Linked DNA regions of Homo sapiens. The protein of the gene in region 2 purifies or fractionates together with the protein of the main gene of each other region. This does not show direct contact. Each region holds a gene or a part of one and is shown on either strand. Other genes may lie near its edges.

Region 1 (3,993 bases), on a different chromosome or scaffold from region 2:
CACAGCCCCCGGCAGATGGGCTGGCTGCTGAGGCCATTTGACTCTTTGGGCCCACATGTGGCCAGACCTGATGGGACCCTAGAAGCAGCCTGTACCCAAAGCCAACTGTAGGAGCTGGGACACTCCACCTGTCTCTAGCCCTCTATCTGCATGGCTGCCAACATTCAAGGCTCCTTAAACCTTCCGGGGTCTCTTCCAGTCACTGCCCAGGTCCAACCCAAGTGTTTCCCCAGGAGTAGGGCTCCAGGACAGTCACAACCTCCAGATCAGGAGCACGGTTTGTGATAACGCAACCATGGCTTCTTCCCTGGCGGCATCGAGCTGTGGGCACTCCCTGAGCTGGGGAGTTGGGGTAGGGGTGAGATGGAACTGGAAAAGCAGAAGAGAGAGAGAGTGAAGCCCCTCCAACTACAGGTCCCTGCACCCCTGAGCTCCTGGCCAGCTAGGATGCCATTAGCAATGCACGGCCATTGAATTCCATCACTGCTTCCTATGTATTGACGCCATCCCTAAGTAGATTAGAAACTCAATGGTGGGACTGTGACTTGAAATTCTTTGGCACTCCAGCCCAGAGTGGCAGGTGGGCCCAAATGGCACTCTCCGCCCAGTACTTGGGTCACAGGCTGAGGGGTAATCCTCACCAACAGGAGCCCCCTAAAGCTCCTCCTGCCTGTGTGAATGGGGTGGGGGAGGGTGGCCAGACTGGGTCGGGGCGGGGCTCCTATCCTGCCTCCCACCAGGGCCTGGCTCCTCCTTCAGCTCTCCCTGGCCAGGCCAGGGAGGGAGGGCAGAGCAGGTGGGGAAATGGCTGGGAGGTGTAACTCGAGCCCAGGAGGAATTCCCTGCCCTTCCTCTATGCTTTTATTAAAGTAGGGCGGGGAAGGGCAAGCTTCCATCGGAAAAATCTCCCAGGCAGCCCGGAGAGGTGGGAAAGCCGCCGTGGGCCAGGGAGGGAGCACCAGCTGAGCTGCAAATAGAAACGGCGCTCAGGCCCGCAGCCCGGGCAGCCCAAGGGCACCAAGGCCTGAGCACCGTTCAGAAGCGGCTCCGGGGTGGTTCTTTCTCCCTACTCCCCGCCCAAGTCCTCTCCCCGCCTATCTGGGGCAGGGCGCAGGTCTTAGAAGTCGGGGAAGAGTGGACCCTGCTCTTGCTCTGGGGCAAGAAAGCTGGCGCCTTCGGTGTCCTCGCTCGGGAGACACCATGGAGCTGGGGCGCTGGCTGGACTCGGCTCTACGCCGGGATGTCGCGCCTGGTCACCCGCGGGACCCATCCAGAGCGGGGCCCCGGGAGGGACGCCAAGCGGGCTCCTAGCGAAGAGAGGCGCGGGGTCCACCCTCTCGAATCCAGGGCTTCGACGTAGGGGCGCTGTTGGGAGGAAGCGCTGTGGGAGGCAGGGTCCGTCCTTAGGACCCCGCCCGGGCGTGCCTAGGCTTCCTCGCAAAAGCGCAGAAAGTCGCCAAAGCGCCCCCGCAACCCGAGTCCGCTGCCTCAGCCGTTTGCACCCATCCCCCCGCCTCCATCCTGGCCCGCCGTGCGCGGCTCGGTATCACCCAGACGGGAGGCCACCTGGGCAGGAGCGCAGTTGCCCAGCCGCCCAGCTCTTGCTCCGCCTGTGGCTGTCCCCGAGAGCAGCCCCCTCCCCACTCGCAAAGAGCGCCACTGCGCGCCAGCCGGGCTCTCGAGGAATCGGCTGCCCTGGAGGGAAGGAAGGAGGGGAGGCAAGGGCTGGGGGCGGCGGAAGCGGCTCCCGGGACACAGGCTGAATGTAAGGGGGTCGGGGTGGGGGCTCAGTGCCCAGAACAGGGCTGTAGGAGTAGCGGGGAGGAGAGCGAGGCCCTGCGCCCTCAAGGGTTTGCGAAGAGGTGCGCTGCAGAGGGCGAGCTGGGGAGGGGCAGACTGCCAAGTCCGCTTGCTTCCCCGCCACGGCCCAGAACAGGGGGCGCGTCTCCGCTCCCTCCACCTCCAAGTCCCAGCCTGCGGACGTGGCGCCTCTCCCTCCAAGCCCCCAGCCCGCAGCCAAAGGGCAGGGCGGGGGTCTTACCTCGGCATGGACCTCCGCGTCTTCGGCCGCTACGCCAAGGCCCAGGCAGCCCAGAAGCACCAGGAGCAGCGGCAGCAGTCGCGGCCGCGCCGCCTCCTCCCGGTCGCCGAGGAGGCTGCCCGTCCAGCCCGGCCGTCCGGGCGCGCTCGGGTCGCTGCCCATGCTCTCGGCGCCCAGCCCAGCTCGGAACACTGCACGCCGGATCCTCGCACGCGCCTTGGAAACTTGCGACGCTCCCTGGCTCCTGGCCCGGCAGGCGCGCCGCGGACCTCGGGCTCCCGGTCCCCGCCGGAGCCGCCTAGGTCGCCTCGGCAAATTCCCAAGCCCGAGGAGAAGCGGGCAGGGCAGGTCCGGGAGCTCGGAACCAGCCGGCGGGAAAGGGGGCCGACCGGAGCTGCCCCCGGCGAGGTTCCGCAGCCTCGGCGCCCAGCGCCTGGGGCCCGGCTCCCGAGAGCAAGCGCAACTCCGGAGCCTTTGTCTGGCTCAGCGCTCCGGCCGCCCGGTCCCGCGGCGCTCCCTGCGCGCCCAGCTCCCTCTGTCCATGCCCGGGGCCGGGCGCTGCCCGGAGCGCGCGCCTCCTGCACGGGGATTCTGCTCGCCGCCGCGCCCGACCGGGCCCGGGTCCCCAAGCAGTCCCGGGAGGAGGCGCAGGGAGCCGACCCGAGAGAGCGAGCGAGAGAGCAAGCGAGCCAGCCAAGGAGCGGGCGCCCGACGTCCCCGGCGAGTTCAGCGCGGCTCCGGGCGCTCCCAGCCCTCCTCCCCGCGCGCCGCGGCCGCCGCGCTCTTAAAGGGCCAGTGTGCTCCCAATGCGCGGACCCGGGCGGGGACCGGGGGCGGTGCCCCAGCCGCAGGCTTCTCACAAGCAGGTGCGGGCGGCCGAGGCCCGACAGGTGGGCGGTCCGTTTACGCTTCCCAGACGGCAGGAAACCTCTCCAGCCCACCCCGCGTCACTCCCAACCCAGCGCCTAGGGGGCGGGGGTGACCTCCAACGCGACCCCCCGCGGAGGGAGGAGGCAGGGAAGGCGTGGTCTCCCCGCCTGGGAAGAATGAAGACTCCTCCTTCTCATACCTGGTGGGGGATACCGAGGCCTAGGCGGACGGGAAGGAGGTCTTAGGGGAGGGATCAAAGAGTCGTTTTAGGCTTAAATATAAATATATATGTATATATGGATATTTGTCAGCCTGAAACCTCTTTTCAAAAGCCGCAGGGTGTCTCTGGCCATTGAATAACTTTCCTCAGTAGCAAAGTGAGGGTTTTGTGCGCGTCGAGGGCGCGTTGCGGCGGACAAGGGGCAGGTTTAGGAGGGACACGGTTCAAGTTCCGCGTCCGCCCCTTAGCTGCCGCTTGCACGTGGGCAAATTAATCTCTCCGAGCCTCCATGTTCTTATCGGGAACGTGGGGCAAAGAGTTGGGGTGAGGGCGAGGTAAGACTTCCGGCTCCTGGCCTGGCGCAATAGGTGCCCAAGCACTTTGGCCACTGGCTGGTGCGAGTGAAGTGCGACAGTGCGGCCGGAGTCGGCGCGGGGCGGGTGGACACACCTCCCCGCGAAGCTTAACGAGCTGGATTTCATTCTATTCCGGAAGCAGCTTGAGGTCGGGGCGGGGTGGATGCAGGAGGCCAGAGCTGGGAGGCCCGGGTCGAAGGTCCACCGAGACCCGGGGACCAGGCCAAGGGCAGCCCTGGCGCGGCGGACTGGCCGGCGTGGTCAGTGGGTGAGGGTTGCAGGCAGGAGGGCGGAGACCGAAGATAAGCTGTTCCTTATCTTCAGACCCGGAAATGGAAGCCGTCCTCACCTGAGGGCGGTTTTCTCTAGAGCAGGCCCTCGGGGCACCCTAGCCGGCCTCACCTCCCGGAAACTGGAAATCAGGAGACCTGGCAGAGTGCCTTAGAGAGGGCGCGTTTGAACCCTCCTGGGATGTCCTTGGGGAAAGGAAGTCGGAGTTTAGAGAA
Region 2 (4,448 bases):
GCCATGAGGGGGTCTGAGGAAGCAGAGCTGGGAGAGCCTGGGAAGGTCTTGTCTCCGCCCCCTCAAGACTCATTCTAATTCTAGGTCATGGCTTGGCGCAGGGGTCCTCTGCTCTTTTCCTCCCCAGGAAGCAGATGGCAGTTGGAGGACGAAGCCTTGCTCTGAGATGGACAGGCCTCCCTGTGAACCCCACCCCGATCTCTGTGTGACCTTGAGCCAGTGTCTTTACCTTTCTAAGGTTCAATTTACTCATCCAAAAACATGGGGATGAGACCGTCATGTAAAACATCCAATACAGTCCCTGGCCCAGAGATAAGTACTCAAGCCCTGGCTGCTGCTGTAAAGGCTGCCAAGTTAAATCCTCTCACTCTTCTGCCAGTACACCACGTGCAGCCCCATCTTGACACATCCCCCCAGTCTTCCTCTCCTCCCCCAACCAAGTATTCCCCATGCTTCTCCCCTTGGGCAGGGACACCTGGAGGATAGACAGACCTATCACCCAGGAAGGGTCCCCAGGTGTCTCCTGGGCTCTGTGAAGTGTCTGTCTTGGGTGCAGGGCACAGTTAGGAGGGAGAGATCAAGTTGGGGGTGTGAGCAAGAAGGGATGGGGGAAAAGGCATCCTAGAGGAGGGTATGCCTGAGCTGAGGGCACCTTGGGAAAGGGTGGAGGTGCAGGTCCCAAGCAGATAAACAGCTCTATAAAGGCACAAATGAAACCAACAGCCTGGTGTGGCTTTAGGGGCCCATGTGTCCTGCGGACCTCCCCAAGAATCATGGCCTCCTCCCGTTGGCTGTGGAGACCAGGAAAGGGGTTGGGGCAGGGCAGCCATGAGGCCAGTGTGCATTTGAGTAGGGGAGGCTGTGCTGGATAGTGTGGACGGTAGCCTGGGCCTGGGGTCTTCACAGTTGAGGGAGTGAGTGGGTGGAGAGGGAAGGCCCAGGGGACTCTGTGACCATCCCCGTGTGGAGGAGGGAGCTTTAGGAGGTCATCGCGGGGCTCCCTGCCATCACGCATGCCTGCCCTGGCAGCCCCTGTGTGGCACTCTGGCAGCTGGCCTACCTGGGACTTGTCAGTTGATTCCTGCCATTCCCATCTGCCCCTCACCTCACCCAGGGCTCAGAGAGATGGTGGAAGCTGTGAAGGCCTGGGCAGATGCCCACCAGGGCCTTGTAGAGGCCACAAGGGTCCCGGGGTAGGGGTGGGGTGGCCTTACCAAGAGGAGCTGGTGTGCCGGAAATTCCCCAGGTGGCCACGAACAGCAGGAGGCTTGTGAGCTGCCACATTCTGGAGGCACTGGCACCTGTCTGAGGAGGACTTCTGAGCTCCGGGCAGTGCCTACCCCCGCTGCTGCTCTGCCTGCACCCCCAGGTGGAAGCGGAATGAAAGGGCTGTCCCTGTGTGCTGGCCGTCAGGGCGGAAGCTGGGATTGAGGGTCCTTGTTCGCTAGAGACATAGCCTCAGAAGGCCTCGGCTGCCCGCTCTACGTGGGGCTGAGCTCACACTGCCTGCCTAGAAAGCAGCTCCAGAATGCAGTGGAGAGGGTGCCAGGATGTTTGTGTCCTCCCTGGGGACAGTGGGGTGGCTGCCTCTGCCGGTCTGATGACTGGGCTGAGAATATTAGCTAACGTTGATTGGACACTCATGGTGTCTTTCAAACAATTTTTACAGGATTCACAGGGCAGGCCATGAAGCCAGACTGCACGGTGCAAATTCCAGCTCCAGCACTTACTGGAGGGCAATGTTGGGCAAGATGCTTAACTGCTCCATGCCTCAGTTTCCTCATTTGTAAAATGGATGGAATAACGTGGTGTATCTGTGCCTTAAAGGGTGTTGTGAGAATTAAAGGAGTTAGTCCACATAAAGCTCTCAAAACAGGCTTTGCACATAGCTCATGCTCAGTAAACATGAGATATTATGACTTCAGTTAAGGCTCACAACCACCCAAGAGGTAGTTATTAATGCTGTCAACCCCATTTCATAGAGGGGGAAACTGAGACTCGGAGGAGTTAAGTGGTTTATTAAAAATCCAACCCTTGCTGGTCTCCGTTGATTGCACAGGGAAGTCACCAACCCAGGGGATCGATCAGATTCTGTCCCCCATCCTCCAGGAGTAGGGTCTCACACCATCAGTACACTGCAGGCACCAGACTCGGAAGACTGAGGCAAGGTCCTGGGTCTCCATGTTTACATCCATGCATTACTCGCAGAGCCAGGACTCAAGGCCAGGCCTGTGTGGTTTTAGGCCTGGAAATTCAACCCCTGCCCCAAACCACCAGGTGCTCCAAAAGGCCACAGAGATAGCCCTGGTGGCCAGAGATCAAGGAACCCTCCCCAGTGGATAGGCCACGTGGCCCTCTGCACACCCTACCGGACCCTGCTCTCCATTCTTGCCGACTCCCTCTGAGGCCACTTCTGAGATTTGTTCAAATCCGACACCCCCAAAGGTGGAAGTGGGGTGGGGAGAATGGAGGGTCCTGGGCTCCAAACTGTCTGTTGGAATGGCCCTGGGCCCTGGGGACCCTTGGCCTGGAAAGAGGGAGGCGCATGGCAAAGGGACCTGAGACTGTGGCTGCCAGGCCTGGCCTGTGGAGGGCCTTGTGTCCTTTCACCCCAAGCTCAGGCTTGTTGAGCACCCTGGCTGGAGGATTCAGCCCTCATCACCACCTAGCTCTCTTCTCCCGGGGGCAGCCCTCCCTCCACACCCCTCATAGACCTGCCTGGAGGGGGACTCACAGGGGCGGGTCGTGGAGATACTGCAAGTTCGCCGTCCTGCCGCCATGACAGCCTGGAGTTCGAGTTAATCCATAACCACAAATATTTGCTTGGCCCTCAGCACTGAGGCCTCCCTCTCCATAGACAAACAGTGGCACTAGCACTCCTGGTCCTAGCTCAGCACGGCTTGTTCTGCCCGAAGCCCACCTCTGCCCACCAAGGATGCCGTCCAGCAGGGAGGGAGGTGAGGGCAAAACCCTTGACAGATGTGGTCTCATTTTAGCCCCATAGTGGCTGGCTGAGGGAGGAACGTTGTCCCTGTTTTTCAGATGGGGACATTTTTGCCCAGAGATATTATAGTTTGCCCAAGATCAGCACAACAGGTAATATTCCATATTTCGTCAAATCTAAAATACCATTAATTATAAGACACATGTATTTATGTGCCACCATACAAGAAAAAAGACGCTGTCCCAATGACATGCCATCCCAATTTCTGATACATAAAATCATGAGAAGATGCTCCTTTTTGGGTCCCCAGTGCATAGGTGCTGGGCACTGGGCTCCACCCTCACCTCCAATTGCTCACAAATCACCCCCAATCCCCACCCCCAACACACACACACAATGGCACATAGCATCCCTCTAACCTCTATTTTTCAGGTAAGGACACTCAAGTTTTGTGTTACTCGCCCAGATTCACTGAGCTGGTAGTTGGCAGATTTAATTTGAACTCAGGTCTTGCTGCTTCCATTTGGCCCCTTTTGTGGACCAGTAAGAAAAATGAACGGGATTCCAGAAAGGCTGCAGCAATTTCCTGGCCGGGGTGCCAGAAGGGAGAAGGGCAGAAATAAAGGGTCCAGCTCAGCACCTTTGCCTGTGTCCTGCAGTCTATCAGCATTTATTAAGCGTCTTCCTGCTCCGAACCGGGCTGCACCAGAGATGCCCCCCTTTCCTCCCTGCCCTACCTGTTCCTGGGAAGACTTGCCCACGTTCCTTCTCCAAGTCTGCACCTCTAAACGGGGCATGTGACCCTGCCTCGCTGGCTTCCATTGATTGCACAGGGAAGTCACCAACCCAGGGGATTGATCAGAGGAGTAGGGTCTCACACTGTCAGTACACCATAAGTACCAGACTCGGAAGATTGAGGCCAGGTCCTGGGCATCCATGTTTACGCTTAAAGCAGAGGAAGCTGATGAGAAGGAAGATGCAGGTGTGCAGAGGGGGACTGAGGCCACGGACACCTAGAGAGTCCCAGGGAGCAGCGGAAGGAGGCCCCTGCCTCCTTATGATTGGTGGCACATCCTGGCTTCGGGTGCAGGAGGGTCCCCATGCCCTCCTAAAACCCTATTCCTCCTGAAGTTTCTTTAAATTGGCTGGAACAGCTTGTGTTGATTGTAACCAGATGCCTCCTGCTGAGGCACCACACCATGCTGGGCTGTGGTGGTACCAGGCCCTCCTAGAGGAACAGGGTAAAACTCTAACACTCTAACAAGTCAGGCCCACCTTGCCCAGGGGCAGGTACACATAGGAAATGCTTACAGAATTCAGAGGAGAGGGCAATCAGTACAAGCTGGCATAGCCAGGGGAGGCTGCCTGTAGGAGGTGACACTTCAGCTGGACATCAAAGAGCAGACAGGAGGAAAGACATCCCCCCCAACCCCACCCCAGGTTGGGAGACAGTGGGGAGACACAGAACACAAGCAGTCAGGAGGTGCTAGGAGGGGTGGAGGTG

The links.
Region 1: the proteins of PROC (region 2) and MMP15 purify together in Homo sapiens (co-immunoprecipitation; one study listed by IntAct). This does not show direct contact.

Annotation. Positions count from the first base shown.
Region 1 is NC_000016.10:58,024,561-58,028,553, reverse strand, and holds the start of MMP15 (matrix metalloproteinase-15 preproprotein), read right to left. Parts: upstream 2,801-3,993; 5' UTR 2,204-2,800; coding exon 2,042-2,203; intron 1-2,041. UniProt on the Homo sapiens protein: Endopeptidase that degrades various components of the extracellular matrix. May activate progelatinase A.
Region 2 is NC_000002.12:127,416,779-127,421,226, reverse strand, and holds the start of PROC (vitamin K-dependent protein C isoform 10 preproprotein), read right to left. Parts: upstream 2,801-4,448; 5' UTR 2,781-2,800; coding exon of another isoform or gene 2,715-2,780; intron 1,531-2,714; exon of another isoform or gene 1,422-1,530; coding exon of another isoform or gene 1,285-1,421; coding exon 1,215-1,284; intron 1-1,214. UniProt on the Homo sapiens protein: Protein C is a vitamin K-dependent serine protease that regulates blood coagulation by inactivating factors Va and VIIIa in the presence of calcium ions and phospholipids. Exerts a protective effect on the endothelial cell barrier function.